Regions from separate parts of the Homo sapiens genome. Here region 1 is linked to region 2. The links come from fine-mapping of genetic effects on plasma protein levels. A gene starts in region 2. The other region holds a variant in brackets. All regions are shown on one strand. Distances are from middle to middle. Region 1 overlaps MDGA1 (MAM domain containing glycosylphosphatidylinositol anchor 1). Region 2 holds the start of MDGA1 (MAM domain containing glycosylphosphatidylinositol anchor 1).

Evidence for each region. A credible set is the group of variants that fine-mapping cannot tell apart. PIP is the chance, under the fine-mapping model, that this variant and not a neighbour inherited with it causes the effect. The UK Biobank Pharma Proteomics Project read protein levels with antibody pairs (Olink). The fine-mapping took linkage between variants from a reference panel, not from the people measured, so its PIPs are less certain.
Region 1: its variant is the best candidate, but not a certain one, in a credible set for the plasma level of the MDGA1 protein (UK Biobank, PIP 0.55).

The regions. Positions count from the first base shown.
Region 1 is chr6:37,668,543-37,676,866 of GRCh38, forward strand. The region is part of intron 1 of MDGA1 (MAM domain containing glycosylphosphatidylinositol anchor 1); the gene reads right to left. Among named protein-coding and RNA genes, the nearest start is that of MDGA1, 25 kb to the right of the region's middle. The variant AGG/A (reference allele first, on the strand shown) is at 4,357.
Region 2 is chr6:37,694,070-37,702,393 of GRCh38, forward strand. It overlaps MDGA1 (MAM domain containing glycosylphosphatidylinositol anchor 1), which reads right to left and starts at 3,814. Exons shown (of 17, transcript NM_153487.4): 1 at 2,676-3,814. The coding sequence starts at 2,742. RefSeq lists enhancers at 1,708-2,437, 2,438-3,167 and silencers at 2,710-2,869, 2,900-3,189, 3,370-3,429, 3,490-3,619, 3,680-3,749 and 3 more.

The DNA.
Region 1 (8,324 bases), 26 kb before region 2:
TGGTATCTTCATACAAAGGAATATTCCCCGTTAAGTGAAAAAGGTGAACTATAGATAGACATGACACTGTTGAATCTCACAGGCGCAATTTGAGTGAAAGAACCCAGACACAAACATACAGTGAACTGTAATGCTAAAGACAGAAAATAAAAAGAATAGTGTGTGATTTCATTTATTCAAAACTTAAAACTGGAAGAACTAATCTTAGGGTAACAGAGGCCTAACACCGATTGCCCTTGGGTGGGGTGGGAGATTATTTGCTGGGAAGGGCACAAGAGAACTAACTTTTTCTCTCTTTCTCTCTCTCTCTCTCTTTCTTTTTTGAGACGGAGTCTAGCTCTGTCGCCCAGGCTGGAGTACAGTGGCACGATCTCAGTTCACTGCAACCTCTGCCTCCTGGGTTCAAGCAATTCTCCTGCCTCAGCCTCCCGAGTAGCTGGGATTACAGGTGTCTGCCACCACGCCCAGGTAATTTTTGTATTTTTAGTAGAGACGGGTTTTCACCGTGTTGGCCAGGCTGGTCTCGAACTCCTGACCTCGTGATCCACCCTCCTCGGCCTCCCAAAGTGCTGGGATTACAGGCATGAGCCACTACACCTGGCCAAGAGAACTTTCTTGGGGAGAAGAAGAGATCCCATCTGGTGAGATGGAAATGTTGGACATTTTGATCTGAGTGGTGTTTGCACAGTGTCTGGATACACAAAAACACATCAAGGTATCTGCTTTGGACTTCACCATATTATACCTTCTAAATTACACCTCAGTTTTTAGAAAACAGCATCCACTGTCCTGGGATGATATTAACCATTGAGATTATCCAGGATAACCCATTTACTATTATAGTTACCCAACTCCCTTTATTCTCACTGTTACTTGATGAGGCACTTCCCATTGCTGATTTGGTTCCAGGTACAGTTTTCCTTCTGAAATGAGTCCTCACTAGTAGTACATTACCTAGTGCCCCTTGGCCTTGGCTTTTCAATTTGCTCATCACCCCCCACTGAGTTTCTTTAACATGAGTCAGCCTCCCATTGGCTCAGGTCACCCTTGGAATGGCCAGAACCATGTTTCTGACCCTGAACCCCAAAGGGTCCCTGCCCCACTGAACCTCAGCCTCCATCCAGCTCCACATACCCTAGGAAGGCACTGCCTGCAGCAGCATCTCCTGATTCGGAAGGCAACCCAGGCAGGGCTGTTTCAAGATACACCATGACACGATCCTTTCACTCAATCTGTCGAACAATAAATGCTTCTGGGCCAGGCACTGTGCTGGGCACTGGAGATACTGTCATGAAAAGCAAACAAGAGATGGCTCTCAAAGAGCATTGCTGGGGAGATGGATAGCAAAAAAGGAAACAGAAATGGACAGGGTGATTTCAGAGTGTTAAATGCTATGATGACTCGAAAACAGGGAGATGTGATAAGGAACCATGGGGAGAGGAAAGGTCTGCTTTAGAGAGATGGAAACAGCACAGCTGTGGAGTCACACAATCTGGGGCCCATTCCTGGCTCTGCTACCCACTAGCTGGGTGATGCTGTGTGATGCTGAGCAAATTACTTAACCTCTCTGAGCCTCAGCCTCTTCATTTATAAAATAAGAACAATGATGCCTTCTCCCAGGGCTGCTAATGAGGGGCTAATGCAATATATGTAAAACACCTGACCAAATAGTATGTGCTGTCTCCATAAATGACAGCTCCCAAGATGATGAAATAGGAGCAAGAGATAGAGAAAGGGGACCACCTGCTATGCACCCGTACACATGCAACCCAGGGGTGGAAATGCTCAAAGCAGACATTAAACGGGTAGGGATGTTTCATGAACATGTTCAAAATTCATGCTGAGGGCTGTGCAGGGCTTCAGAGGGGATGGAAAGTGGGAAGGGCTGGAGCCCTTCCCCGAGCATCCCCCTTCTCATGGTACTAGTGCACTTGGCTGTGTGGCTTTCAGCAAGTTACTTAAGCCTTAGTTTTCTCATTTGCAAAATGGGGTTGTTGTGAGGAATAAATAAAGAAACTCATGTAAAGTGTTTAAAACAGTGCCTGGTACGCAGTATGCAATCTAAAAATGTCAGCCAGCATTATTATTCTATAAATGATCCTGCACTCCTCTCAAGAATTCACATCCCCTGCAGCCTGCAAGCCGTTTGCATGAAAGGACCCTGCCTTCTCTGTCACAGATGATGAGGGTTGGTACCTTCCTGGGGTCCACTGTATATTTCCAAGCTCCTTGCCTCAGTTCTGCGAAGCAGAAAGGGAAAGTCATATTTAGCTCCATTGGCAGAGAAGGAGACCAATGCCTGGAAGAGGAACCGTCTTGTCCAAGTCACTCACTGAGACAGCAGCACAGCCGAGACTCAAACCCAGGCCTTCCACCTGCTAACTTGGGACTCTGTTCATTGTCCCCAGGAATTTCAGAGGCATGGCTGGATTTGATCATCTTTGCTTGACACCATATTAGTGGATAGAAAACTGAACAGCATTTCAGAACCAAGTGTGCTTCCTTGCCTCTGGTCTATGACACTTTCCTATTTTACTCTCCTGATTTCTATCAACAAAACCCCATGGAAAAGGAAAACAGCCTCTGCCAACCTGTGTGCCACAGAGTGTTCACTGATAGTCCATCACAGACGATTTTCACTGTCAATTAAGGATGCTGCATGTTCTTTCTCTCGCCCTCTCTGAGAAAGACTTAGCACACAAAGTATATTATTGAAGGCTCTGAAAAGTCCTGCAGTAAACACATCTGTGTAACTTGGTTTAACTCAGTGCTTTCTAAACGTATTGGCCATAAACCCCCTTCTTCGCAGAGCACAACATCCTGAGAGACAGCAATGTTCTGTAAAATTAGTGGAGAAAAGCTTAATACAAAACTGACAGCTGAGGGGTTAACATGCCCCTCCCCAGTCCCTTAGTTAAGAACAGCCAAGTGGCCTGAGACATGTCACCCTTGGGGCAGCATCCTAATGAGCACAGCCGAGGCAGAATGCTGCTGGCCTATCAGCTTACTCTTTTCCTCCCCAAAAATTATACACCCAAAATGTATAGTTATGGGTAGGGGCTTCCAGCACCCAGTAGGCCCAGTGAGGAAGCCACAAACTCTCAGGGAGTCAGACTAAGACAAACTCCAACCTGCCAACTAAGGGTCCAAAGAGAATTCTCACTGTAATGGGGGAATTTCATCAAAGACCCCCATCCCCCATAAGAGAATCCATGCCCAGCTGCTATAGCCACAGGTAGGGGTGCTATAAAATGCATGTGGATACAACACTAGGGTGAGGGCCAAACAAGACAGACAGCAAGACAAATGGAAAACCTTGATTAAAAGCACCTTCAGGCCTATAATCCCAGCACTTTGGGAGGCCAACGTAGGAGGATCACTTGAGCTCAGGAGTTCGAGACCAGCCTGGGCAACATGGTGAAACCCCATCTCTACCAAAAATATAAAAACTTAGCCAGCATGGTGGTGCACACCTGTGTTCCCAGTTACTCGGGAGGCTGAGGTGGGAGAATGGCTTGAGCTCAGGAGGTGGAGACTGCAGTGAGCTGAGATCATATCACTGCACTCCAACCTGGGTGACAGAGTGAGACTCCATCTAAAAAAAAGAAAAAAAAAAAGTTCCTTCAGGCCGGGCACAGTGCCTCATGCTTGTAATCCCAACATTTTGGGAAGCTGAGGCAGGAGAATTGCCTGAGGCTAGGGGTTCAAGACCAGCCTGGGCATCATAGCAAGACCCCATCTCTAAAAAAAAAAAATTTTAATGAGCTGGGCATGGTGCCACATGCCTGTAATCCTAGCTAAGAGGGAGGATTGCTTGAGCTCAGGAGATCGAGGCTGCAGTGAGCCATGATTGCACACTGCACTCCAGCCTGGGCGACAGAGCAAGACCCCTATCAAAAAAACAAAAGCTCAGCCAATAATCAATGAAGAGGACTGTTGCCCTCTTCCTGCTTCTGGCTCCTTCAGGGAAAGAGTCTGCAGGCTGGGAAATGACCAAAGAACAGGGTGAGGAAGGGGCAAGGAGACAAAAGGAGAAGGAGTGGCTGCAAAATTCCCCGCCCAGAGTTGGTTCTATCTGCCCACAGATGACAGAGCAGGTGCCACCACCCCAGCCACCTCCCAGAAGCATCACTGAGTGTTCTGGATGGAGTGGTACAGAATTGGGATCTGTGTTCTGGTCCTGGCTTCCATCAGACAGTCATTCAACAAGCCCTTATCAGTATGAGGTGCTAAGCTTGGTTCTGAGGTAACAGAGAGCTGTGGCACTCAGGCTCTGCACTAGGGAAGCAGTAGCTAGAAAAGCTGAATAAGAACGATGCTTATAAAGGCCCACTGAGAGGCAGAGAGGGAGCAGGG[AGG/A]GATTGCTGTGAACTAGAGACTAGTGCTGTCTCAGGTCTCCCCCCACCCCCCATCCCCATAATATAACATTAACTGCAATAGCTACCCTTTATTGACATTTACTCTGCCAGCAATATATTCAGTGCTTTATATCTTTTATCATATTTATTGCTCCTAACAAGCCTACTATGGTTCGGACTTTTCAGATGAGGAAGCTGAGGTTCAGCGAGGTTATATAAGTTACCCAAGGACACCCCATTGGTCTGGAGTCTGTCTGACTCTCCGTCTTTCATGCTAACCGCCATGCATTTCCACTTCGCAAGTGCCTAGCCCAGTGCAGGGCTCACAGCTCAGCACGGAGCCTCCACATTCCTGGTGGGACCGATGCTGTGCAGCATCCTCAGAAACCGTCCCTCCCTCGCCGTGACACCTCTCGCCCTCCCAGATCCTGGTATGCAAGTGTTTATTGATCCTTTTATGCATGTAATGCAAATGAACACTTAATAATTTAGTGGAGTTAATAGTGCTGAAATATTAACAGGCTTTTCTCTTTTAATTAGCTGCTCAGAGAATGGCGGTCGGGGGCCTGGGAGGAGGCTTTCCTGGGCAGGCACCTGGCCTGCTCCGCCTGGGCCTCCTTCTGCCAGGGATGATGTTCCAAGCCTCTCTACAGACTGTGAGCCATCAAGCGTGGGCCTCTTGGGAAAATTAGCCCTGCCCTTCTGTGCTCACTGCATCGGGAGTTGCTCTGCCCTTACCACAGCCCCGCTCTCTGCAGAGCTGGCTGGAGCCTGTCCTCTGTTCACCACCAGCCGGGGGTGGACCAGGTGACTTCTCGGAGGTGCTCTGAGGCTGGGGGAGGCTCCAGTTCTGTGCTAGGAAAGCCGACTTGAAACAGCCCAAACCCACTCACACCATCTCCTCCAGCCTTGCCTGAACGCAGAGCATCTTGAGGGAAAGCAGCAACAGACTTTTGGCCCATCCAGTTCTGGTCATTCTCTCTCCGATCATTAGACTCATGTTCGAGTCCATTTCCTTCCCATCCTCCCTCTCGCTCCCTGTCCTCCCAGTCCCTCAAAGGGCACACACAATCACCTTTTAATTTGCCATTGATTCATTAATTGGCTCTGTAACATTTTCTGAGCACCTATTATGTGAAATCTCCTGCCCTCAGTGCTGGGACACAGAGCCAAATGAGGCATAGCCCTTCTGGGCAAAGAACCTCTGCCCTCTCCCTGCTGCAAACCATATTAAAGCCTGTTCCCCGACACAGGGCCTTTTCTGCTCATCAAAACCAAACCCATATTCAGCCAACCTTCCCTTTGGCTGCAAAAATCTCTCCCTAACCAGAGTGCATGTGTCTCTGACCTCCGGGTACAAGGGCGCTGTCACTGAATACAGCAACCAGCCACAGCTGAAAGGATCAGTGTGCAGGCCGCCACCCCGCCACCACAATTGAATGCAAAAACAAGGTCTGCTTTCATAGTCAGATGCAAGCCTGCTACAGTTTGCAGGGCCTTGTTCCATTTGCAGAGCCTGCCACTGTGGCGCCTGGAGCTTCTGGGAGAGGCTGGCACCCTTACAACTCTCCTCTGCTGCAAGTGGCGGCTGGTCCATTATGTCCCATTCCCTGGGGATGTTCAGCACCACTGCGCCCACATCCTGGTCTCATTGGAAGGCACACAGGTATTGAAAGTGGCAGGTGATGCTCATAGAATCTTCACTGTCTATCAATGGAAGTCTAATCTGCACACCCACTTATAGAACTAGAGGGTGTCTGGACAGGCCACCAGGAAAGCCCTTTAATGAGGACTTTTAGGTCTCCTGATGAAAACTATAAAGGGACTTTCTCCTGGTGGGTCCCAGGATGCCAGGATTAAAACTGCTAATGATTGCTGGGCACGGCGGCTCACACCTGTAATCCTAGCACTTTGGGAGGCTGAGGCAGGCGGATCATTAGAGATCAGGAGTTCGAAACCAGCCTGGCCAACATGGTGAAACCTCGTCTCTACTAAAAATACAAAAAATTAGCTGAGTGTGGTGGCAGGCGCCTGTAATCCCAGCTACTTGGGAGGCTGAGGCGGGAGAATCACTTGAACCTGGGAGGTGGAGGTTGCAGTGGGCCGAGATCGTGCCATTGCACTCCAGCCTGGGCGACAGAGAGAGACTACATCTCAAAAAAGCAAAAACAGCAACAACAAAAAACTGTTAATGATGAGGGGACACAGGTCATCTCCAATCAGTAAAGGCAGGACAAGTTGGGCACTGCTTGATCAGAGGCTTTAAATGCAAATCTGAGAGGGCTGCTCAACGGCATAGGGTGAGGGGTAGGGAGGAGTGCGCTACCTTTTACTCAGTGACCAAGTGACCTTGGGAAAGTTGTTTAACCTCCTTTAGCCTCAGTTTCTTCATCTGCAAAATGGGGATAGTACTACATCTCAGGCTTCAATGGAGATAACTTTTGGGTTGTTGTGAGGATTCGATGAGACAATGCACATCGGGTACATCACACAGTGACTTGTACTCAGCAGGTACTTAATAAATTTCAGTTCCATTTCCACTTAATAATATAGCCCAGGATGCTTTGGGAACCTATTCCAAAGTCTTGCAAGAAAAAAATGTGAAACCGAATGAGGTCTACTTTGAAGGATTTCCAGGAGTTTGTAATCCTGAGAGATCAGAACATTAAGGTGGGCTGAAAGTAGTAATAATCACTGGGAGGAAAAGCTCTCCCTGTGAGAATATGTAAGATGATGGAAAAGAGAAGCTTCCACCCATCAGGGCAGAGAATGACTCCTAGGATCCCAAGGTCTGAGCCTTCCTGGCCCAGTGATGTGGGACCCATGGACACAGGGTTACTCATTGTTACTCATGTAAAATTTCCTTGCCTGGATCCCAGAAAGGAAAGTTCTAGCCCCACCAAGCTCTGCTGGTCTTGGAGACCCCATCACTGTGGTTCACTTGGCACTGGTCCCTGGCAGCAGCCCAGGGTCTAGATCTGACAAGCCTGCACCTGTCAAAGCATACCTATTGAACCAAGCCCACGGAAACAGTAATTTCTGGGTGACTTGAGGCAAATCATTTACCCATCTAGTCTACAGCCTCAGCTTCCTAACTAGAGAATGGACATAACAGGGCTCCCTATTGTGAATGTGAGACCCACTGAGAATGGAATGCCCTGCGCATAGTGCATGCTGCCTAGTAGATACGCTAGAAGTACAGTTAGAAGGGGCTGACATAAAACCAGACTCATGAGTGTGTCTGCTCTGAGAAGGTCCTCCTGTTCCAGGGTGAATCCTGATAGGCCCCAGTCTCTAGGAGTCTGTGGCACAGTCGCTAGGGATAGGGCACCACCAGGGTAGGACCGGAGACACACTGCCAGATCCAGGCCTCCAAACCAGAAGGCAGAGCCTGGGCCAGGAAGTGGGGATGGCAGTGGCTTTGCTAAAGCAAGGAGCCCCCAAAGCACCACCTGATCAAAAAGCCCAGTGAGGCAAAGGGATGGAACATGGCTCTCTCCAAGGCCCACAGAGCTAAACCCCAACTCTCAAGTAGGCTCAGCTTGGGGTTCTGGCACAGGCCTGAATGTAGGGGCCAAAGGGAGAAAATGAGGCTAAGGCACTGGATTTGGGCTGCAGTGGGCATCTGGGGACCCTGAGCCCTCACATAAGCATGGATGGAGGTAGGTGGCAGGGGAGTCCTTTCCACAGAGTGCAGTAGAAAAGCAACCAAACCTGGCCCAGCATGATGGCTCATGCTTGTAATCCCAGCACTTTGGGAGGCAAGGCTGGTAGATTACTGGAGGTCAGGAGTTCAAGACCAGCCTGGCCAACATGGTGAAACCCCAACTCTACTAAAAATACAAAATTAGCTGGGGGTGGTGGCTTGTGCCTGTAATCCCAGCTACTCGGGAGGCTGAGGCAGGAGAATTGCTTGAAGCCGGGAGGCAGAGGTTGCAGTGAGCTGAGATTGTGCCATTGCACTCC
Region 2 (8,324 bases):
TCTGTTCAGCCCCTCCCTTATCCACACAGGTCTGGGGGCAGAGGGGCAGGGGCAGGGGATTCCTCCCCAGGATATACATTTTTCTCCTATGTCTTGAATTAGACCTGCTGCCTCCCTCCCCAGTGCCAGGGCAATACTAGGCTTCCAGCCTCTTCTCTCTTCTAGGGCTGCAGGATAGGACTCTGTGACTCGCCCTAAGCAGAGACCCTTAAACAATGCCCCCACTGCCCTGCTGGAAACCAAGTCCTAGAGAGACTTCTCATGGAGAAAGAATTTCCAACCTGCCCCCAACTATAGCCCTTTCTTCATTCAACAAATACCTGCCTAGCTCCTGCTGTTGTGCCGGGGACCATGCTGGATGCTGGATGCAATGCCAGGCTGGAGTGGCCATCCCTGGTCCCTATGTGCCGCCTTCACTCTCATGCTGTTTCTTCTGCTTCGCGGGTACAGAAAGACTGCTGGGGAGGGGGGCAGAAGAACTAGTCCCAGATCTTCGACCTACTTCTTAAGCCAGTCCTGGTCCTACAGAGATCCTCCCTTCTGCTGTATCTGGCCAAAGATTCTAGCATCACAAGGAACTCAGCGACCTCCTGTCATCCTCCTCCTCCTCCTCCTAAATCTTCTGCCTTCATCCACCTCAATAAAGACTTTTTACCCAGCAATTTCCCTGAAGCCCCAACACTGCCTGAAGCCAAGCTCTCAAAGGAAAAGTGGCATGTCACCCAAGGGCCCAGGGTCGGCCCCAGCACACCCAGCCCACTTTGATTGGCTCTGAGTGAGAGCAAATGGGACCTAGGCACAGGCGGGAGGGGAGAAAACACAGAGAGAAAAGGGTATAGATAAGCCTATGGCTGAATCCTGGCCCTAGAGTACTCTGAAATGAGGGTCCACAGAGACCACTGCCCCTGACTCCAAACCCCACTCTCATTGCTGGGTTTACTAGACTAGGAACAGAGGAACCTCCCAAAGATGAGCCCCAAGCAGCCTAGAGAAGGCTGGAGAAGCTGGAGGGGATGGAGGACAGGGATGACCAGGAGTGGGTCTTGCCAAATGCACCCAATGACACAGGGAAGGAGGGTAGAGTGGAGGACAGCAGCATGCAGGAAGGGCTCTCCATCACCCTCCCCAGCCCCGGGGCTGTGGTGAGAAGGCAAAGACCTCAGCAGCACCTCTCTTAGGCACCTTGACCTGGGGAGAAAGAAGAAAGTGAAACCCCAGTCCACTGGCATCTTCATCTGCCCTGGAGAGGCCAAGGCCTCCAGTACCTGCCCCGTGGCCTCCTCGCCCCAAACCCAGCCTCTCCCAGTCCCTGCTGCATTCTTTCCTGCCTTTCCTGGCCTCTGTGAGGGGCCAGGCAGTAAGAGACACACAAACTAATTAAGAAGCAGAGTTTGGCCAGATGCCTGGGCTAGTCTTACCAGAGAATTAAGGCCAAGCCAGCTAGCTGGGCAGGGCCAGGAGCATGTCACCTCTCAGACACCCTTCAGGACACCCCTTCTTCTTGCCAGGCACAGGCAGATGGGTCAGCACCCTCCAGGGTGCTTTAGCCTCAGCACCTGAGGCTGGCAACCAGTAGTCAGTGCCTATACTACCCCACAAAGAACAGGTCAACCTCCCCTGGATCTAAAAGAGGAATCATTAGTCCCTCCACCCAACAGAAAAGGAAAGAGAGAATCCTGCCCGCCCCAGCCACACATCACTAAAAAGGGACCTGGACAAACCATCCTGCAGTAAAGAGAAAGCAAAGTAAGGGCCACTGGGCCCCTGAGAATGATTTTTTGTGCTGTGGGGTTAAGGCACTGCGGGAGGCTGAGCCCAGGTGACTGAATGGATGATGCCTGCCCCGGGCCTTCCCTGGGAAAACCCACAGGATGGAAGGGGGAAGGGGTAACCAGAGTCTCCCTTGGTAACCACAGCGAGGCGTGCGGACGCAGGAGCAAGGCTGCGTGGCAGGAGGCAGAGTTTGGACACGTATCCCGGTGGGTGCGTGCCGTGTTTGCGTTTTCTGGGGATGGTGGCTGAATGTATCTGTGTGTGCGCGCAGGAAGGAAGGTGGGGTTGGGGTTTGTAGCCAAGAACCGGGGACAGGAAGAACTGGTTCAGGGAAGGTCCGAAAAGGGATGCCGGGGTCGAAGGCGCCAGGGCCAGGGGATGCCGGCATCCTGATCAGGGTGTCAAGCCCTGAGTAGAAGAAGCGAAGCCGCAGCAACAGCGGGGAAGGCGAGCCCGCCGCCCGGCCTTGGTGCTGACAGCCGGCTCGCCCGCAAGCCGCGCGGCAACTCCGGCTCATGCATCGCTTGGCTTCCACTCCGGAGGCCGAGCCAGGACGAGGTTTCGGTGCAAGTCGCTGCACCAGTCCTAGACTGGGTCTGTCCGGGTCTCCCGAGCCGACCGGGTGCTCTCAAGGGTTCCTAATCATTCCCACCTCTAGCAGGGTGTGGGAAAGTGGGTGCCTCCTCCTGACATCCCGGCTTCCCACCAGACCCTACGACCGGCCCCTGTGTTCCGAAGCAGCTAGCTCGGTCTCCACGCGCCCTGGAGAGGGCGGGGACGCGGGCATCCACTCCAGAGTCCGAGTCGAGGTCTCCACCAAACCCCGGCAGCGCGCACTTTGCGCCTCTTGCAAAGTTTCCGCGCGAGGTTAAGCCAAGGTGGAGCGGGACGCGGGCTCTTACCGTAGACTCCTTGTCCCCGGCAGTGGAAGGGGATCAGCGCCAGAAGTAGAAGGCAGGTCACCTCCATCTTCACGGCCGGTGCTTCATCCCCGCGAGGCGGCGCAGCCCGAGAGGCGGCGGGGGGCGCATTCGCCGGGGCCCCGCGACGCCCCTATGTCCCCCCCTTTCCCTGAGAGGTGAGAGAGAGAGCGGCGACGAAGACCAGGAGACTGAAGAGGCGGAGGTGGCGGCGACCCGTGTTTCTCCTCCGGCGGGGCCGCTGCCCGCGTGGGGACGCAGGGGGCGCTGGCCCAGCCCCGGGTGCCTCGGCGCGCCCGGCACAGCAGCCAGCGCCCCGACCCGAGGAGCCCGGCCGCCGAGCCGCCCCGGGTACCCAGGGCCGTCCGCGCGGGATGCTAGGCGCCGGGGACCTCTCGGCGGCGGAGGCGGCGCTTCGATCCAACAGGCCACGGACGACTGACAAACTTGTCGTTTCCCCGCACTGGGGCCGCCCCTCAGCGGAGCGGAGTCGGGGAGGCCGGGGCTCCGCTCGAGTTAATCAATCTGCTGTTTCCAGTCCTGCGGCCGCTGCCGTGGGCTCAGCGGCCCGACTCCAGGGGGCCGGGCTGAAAGCACTCGCGGCGGCGAAGCAGCCCCGGGCCCGGCCCTCCTGATCCGGGGAGCAGCGCGGGCTGGGTTCGGCCGAGGGACGAGCGCCGCGGGTCCCCGGGTCCGTGAAGTTAGCCGAGCCGCCGATAAACCCGGGGGAAGAATAGCAGCCCGGCGCCCCGCGGGAATCTGGAGAGCAATTCCAGGCAAGAAGGGCCCCAGAAAACGGGGAAAGGAGGAAAGTTTGAGTCTTTTGAAAAATATTCGCGCTCTCGCCCAGGCCGGGGCTGCGGCGCGGGCGCCGCTCGCCGCCTCCGCTCGCCGCGCTCCTCTCCCGCCGTCTGGCCGCGGCCGTAGCCCTCCCGGGCTCCGAGCTCTCGGGAGAGCGGGGCTACGCCGCGCCCCAAGTTGGTCGTCCCCGCCCCCGCCCGGCGGCCTTGGCCTGCGGGGGCCCAGAGCGGGCGGGGCCGGGCCGGGCTCCGGGGCGCGGCGGCCGCTCGGCTCCGGGCCGCGGGAGCGCTCCGCTCGCTCAGCAACTTGGGCTTTGCTGTGCTGCTTTTTCGCCCCTCCGAGCTTTTCATTCCGCGCTCCTCCCGCCTCCCTCCCTCTCTTCCTCCTCCCTCCTCCTCGCGTCTCCTCGTTCGGTCTCTCGCTCTCCCACCCGTTGTCGCTCGCTCTCCTGTTTGATTCCCCTCCAGTTAAAAAAAGGAGCCAATTAAAGGCAGCCCAGCTCGCCTGGCCCAGCCTCTGTCCAATTTCCTCGCCTCCCCCAGGACCAATTAGAGAAAACAAAACAGGGCTGGGGGAAGCTGACTGCCTGCCTTTCTCTTTCTCTTTCTCTTTCTCTTTCTCTCTCTCTCTCTCTCTCTCTCTCTCTCTCTCTCTCTCTCTCTCTCTCTTTCTCTCTCTCTCCTCTCTCTCTCTTCTCTCTCTCCTCTCTCTCTCCCTCTCGCTCTCTCTCCCTTCCTCTCCTCTCCTCTCTTTCCCTTTCTCCTCTCCCTCTCTCTCTCTTCCTCTCTCCGCCCCCTAACATTCCCCCCCAACCCCGCCCAGCAGGAAAATGTCAGAAAGCAGAAATGGATCCATCTATCCCGAGGACAGTGGCGGAGGGACCTGGGTTTCGGCGGGGGCTCTGCAGCCGCGCGCTCGCACACTCGCTGTTCTCCAGCCTTGCACACCCAGACTAGCTGGCCGAGCCGGGTGCACCGTTGCCAGCAGCCCGCGGGGCAAACACGGCCGCTCGCTTCGGAGACCCATGCCCGCAGGGCACTGCACACTTCGTAAATGTTTTGCACTTTGGGGAGGCGGGACTGAAGCGGGGGTCCTAGGGAAAGGCCGGGCGCCTGCGGTTCCTGGGGTCCTGCAGCCGCGCGAGACGGGCCGCGGCTGTGGGTCTGCAAGGCTGTCTGCCCGGCTCGAGAGGCCCCCGCCCCTTTCCAGGCGTCTGGTGCTGGGGCCGGGCCGGAGCAGCTGGCGGAGAGGTCGCGCTGAGAGCTCCTGCCCTTGCCGCGGCCCACAGGTTGCCAACAGGTTTGCTCGCACGACCCCTCCGCCAGAGCTTCCCTAAGTCACCCCACATTTTCCTCGGCTAGCCACTCTTCCCATCTTGCCTCCCCTCGGGACCTCAGGCGCCCCCAAGCGCCCCGGGGGCACACCTCCTTCCGGCTGCCGAACCCGAGCCCCGCTCCAGCGGCGGGAGTCCGGCACTCGGGTCTCAGCCGCCTCGAAGGGGCCCTCGCGGAGCAGGAGTGCGGAGAACGCTCCTCCCAAACGCCCGCGGGGAGGGGCGTAGGCTGGCAAGCGAGGCTGGTGGCCTCCCCCGCGCCTCCGATCCCGCCCCGCGCCCAACCCGGGTCCTGCTAATCTCACCTGCTCCACCTGTCGCCGTTATTTATCTCAGCGTGTGCGCAAGAATTGTTTTAGGTCGGCCCGTGGGAGCGCAGACAATCGCAGCAGCTAACAAGCGGGGAGACTACGAACCCCCCCTCCCTTCGCCCCCTGGAACTGCTCAATATCTTGATGGTGGTTCCACGGCTCTATGCATTTGTCAAAACTCAAAGATCTCCACACTCCAAAAAGGTTAGTCTGCATATAAATTGAAACATAAATTTTTTTAAAATAATAATAATGAACCGTCCCTTCCCCAGGCCCATTTCCTGCTGGGTCTCTCCTCCCTTGACTCTCCAGGGCTTAAGCCCCACCGGAGCGCGCGCTCCTGACTGCTGGAAGAGGAGCGGGAGGTGTCGGGAAGTGCCTGGTGGCATGGGGGGGTTCCACCTTCCTTTCTCAGCCCCCTTTCTGTCCATCTCAGGAAGCCCGAGAACATCCGAAGATTCCTATTCTCTAGCCCACCTCCACTCGTTTGCGCCTCCCTTGTGCCCTCTTCCGTCTTTTCTCTCCTTTCTACCCCGTGGGTCCAAGGCTGATAGGAAGTCCAGACTCAGTGCGGTGCTCCCAGCAGATGCCAGCTGCAGACATGTTCAGTGAATTCACGAATGATGCCCATCATGGCCAGATATCACAGACCTGGGATACCCTCAGGGTAGCCATCCTTTCACTCCCCAGCCCCGGACTGTTACCTCAAAGGCAAAAAATTCATTTTCTGTCCCACAGAGATACACAGCCACCATGCCTCTTCCCGCCTCCCCCATCCAGTCAGAAAAGGAAGTGGTGCCAATTGAGGGAGTGATGAGGGATAGCTTCTTCTATTGTCATCCTCTTCCCATTATTAGAGGGTTCCTGGAAGTCTCTACCCCTTCCAGGAAGCTCTCAGGGAGTGATCACAGCGACTGTGGCTCTTCCTGGCTTTGCCCATTCTGAGCTGAATGTGTACTTCTCCATGTCGTGCGAAACTGCGCTCTGATTTTCCAATTAGCTGTTCCAACACCAAACAGCAGTCAATTGCTCCTCTTTGGCTTTGGGGTGAGTTACTGGGGACAGAGAACTGCACTGACTCAGCTGACATTCTCTTGACTTTGCCCTCTCTAAACTCACACACTAGCCTGGAGGAGAAAGAAGGTTCATGATGGCGGGGTGGGGGGAACAGAGGACCAAGTTAGCCAGGCTGGGATTGAACATTTGCTGTAGCTAATCCACTTGTGAATACTCTGCAGCTAATTGTATGCAGTGTAAATACCTTGACAGCCTGTTTGTGTGTGTCTGTAAATTCAGCTGTCTCCTCCCCCAAGTGTGCCCTGCCTGCTGCCTCAACACAGCCCAGTGTCTGACAATGGGAGGCAACCTCAGAGAAGGGAAAGAGCCCTAGACATCAGTCCTGCGTCCCAGTCCTAACCTCTCTAGGCCTCAGTTTCCCCAGATGTAAACTAGGTAAGATCCCTGTCTTCCTAGAGAGAAGTGGAGTAATAAGAATAACAGCTGACACCACATGCCAGGCACTGTATTAACTATTTAATCTTCATAACCATTATGTAAGACAGGGCTGTTATTCTCATGGAATGACATAGGAAGATGTAGTGACTCACTCAGCTGCTAAGGGGCCAAACTGAGCTTTGACCTCAGTAGCTTGGCTCGGCGACCTTGCCCTCTCCCACTGTTCTATACTGAAGAGGGGCAAGGGCCTAGGTATCAAATAATGTTTCCACAAGAACTGTTTCCTGTTCCCTTTACAGACACAGAGAACAATACTCTGGCCCCCAAATTGCACCAAGGGCAGGGGGGACATGAGAGCTAGACTGCTAGACCTGACATGGGCCATAGGGCACAGGATGAGCCTGAGGTCAGGCTATCTGGAGGCTTGGTGGTCAGCACCCAGCTGCCAAGTCTTCGGTTCCACTCAAGATCATTCTAGGTCACTTCCCACTAGAAAAAAAAATATATATATATATATGTGTGTGTGTATATATATATATATATATATATATATATATATATATATTTGCCTCAAAGAAAACCTAGCACTTGGGCCCCAGGAGGTTTCAGGAACTCGTTGCTGACCACAAGCCAGGGGCCAGGGAACCAGGGGCTCCAGGCATTGAGCAAGCAGGGCAACTGCGGTTTGTTGTGAGAGCATGTTACTAGAAAGCTCTCCCATCTCCTCCTGCCACTAGCTCGCCTCCGGCGAGTGACAGCCTGGAAGAGGAGAGAAAGAAAGAGAGAGAGAGGAAGAGTCTTTGCTAGATGGTGTTGTCGCCTTGTGAGAGAAATTGTCTCTGAAAATCATACAGTGGCAGGTATTGATTCAATCTCATTGCAAGACGCTTTCTGGTCATGTGGGGGAAGGATGACTGGGAGGGGTGAGGAACGGGAGAGTTATGACCCCGCTGAAAGACCAGTTTATTAATTCGGGCTCTAACAAATAGCCAATTAATGGCTTCAGCTGCTAATTAGCAGGCAGTTAACTCCTATTATAAACTGTGGTGGCTCAAGACTGGTGAGAATGCAATCCCACCATGATACCCGTGGAGAAAAGGGGCCCTGAAGATGCATGTCACTCACGGTTTGTAGCCCACACCACCCCCCTCCTCATCCCACACCCCCAGCAGACCTTCTGTTGGTAGAATGCAGGCTGCATGGGAGCAGGGACCTTGTCTATATGTTCACCATTCATTCATTTAACAAATATTTAATGAGTGCTTACTATGTGCCAGGCACTGCCCTAGGCACAGCAGACTCAATGTAAATAAATCAGACAAGAATCCCTGCCTTCATGGAGGCTATAGTCTAGCGAAGAGACAGACAATAGACTACACAAATGGGGAAAATACGGTATTTGGATAGTACAGGGTATGAAGGAGAACACTAAAGCTAGGGAAAGGAGTAGGAAATGTAAGAGCTGAACTGTCAGAGAAGGTACCCAGAAGGACCCCACTAACATTTCAGTCATGACCTTTAAGATTAGAGGGACCGAACCATGCCAGTATCTAGGGGGAGGACATTGCAGAGAGAGGGGATGGCGAGGACAAAAGGCCTTGCGGTGGTGAGGAGGACGTGGCTGCAGCTGAGAAGGTGAGGGGAGAGTAGGAGGAGCTGAGATCAGAGAGATTTAGGGGGCAGGTCATTCGAGTCTTGGGATTATTGCAGGATGTTGGGTTTTACTCTGAG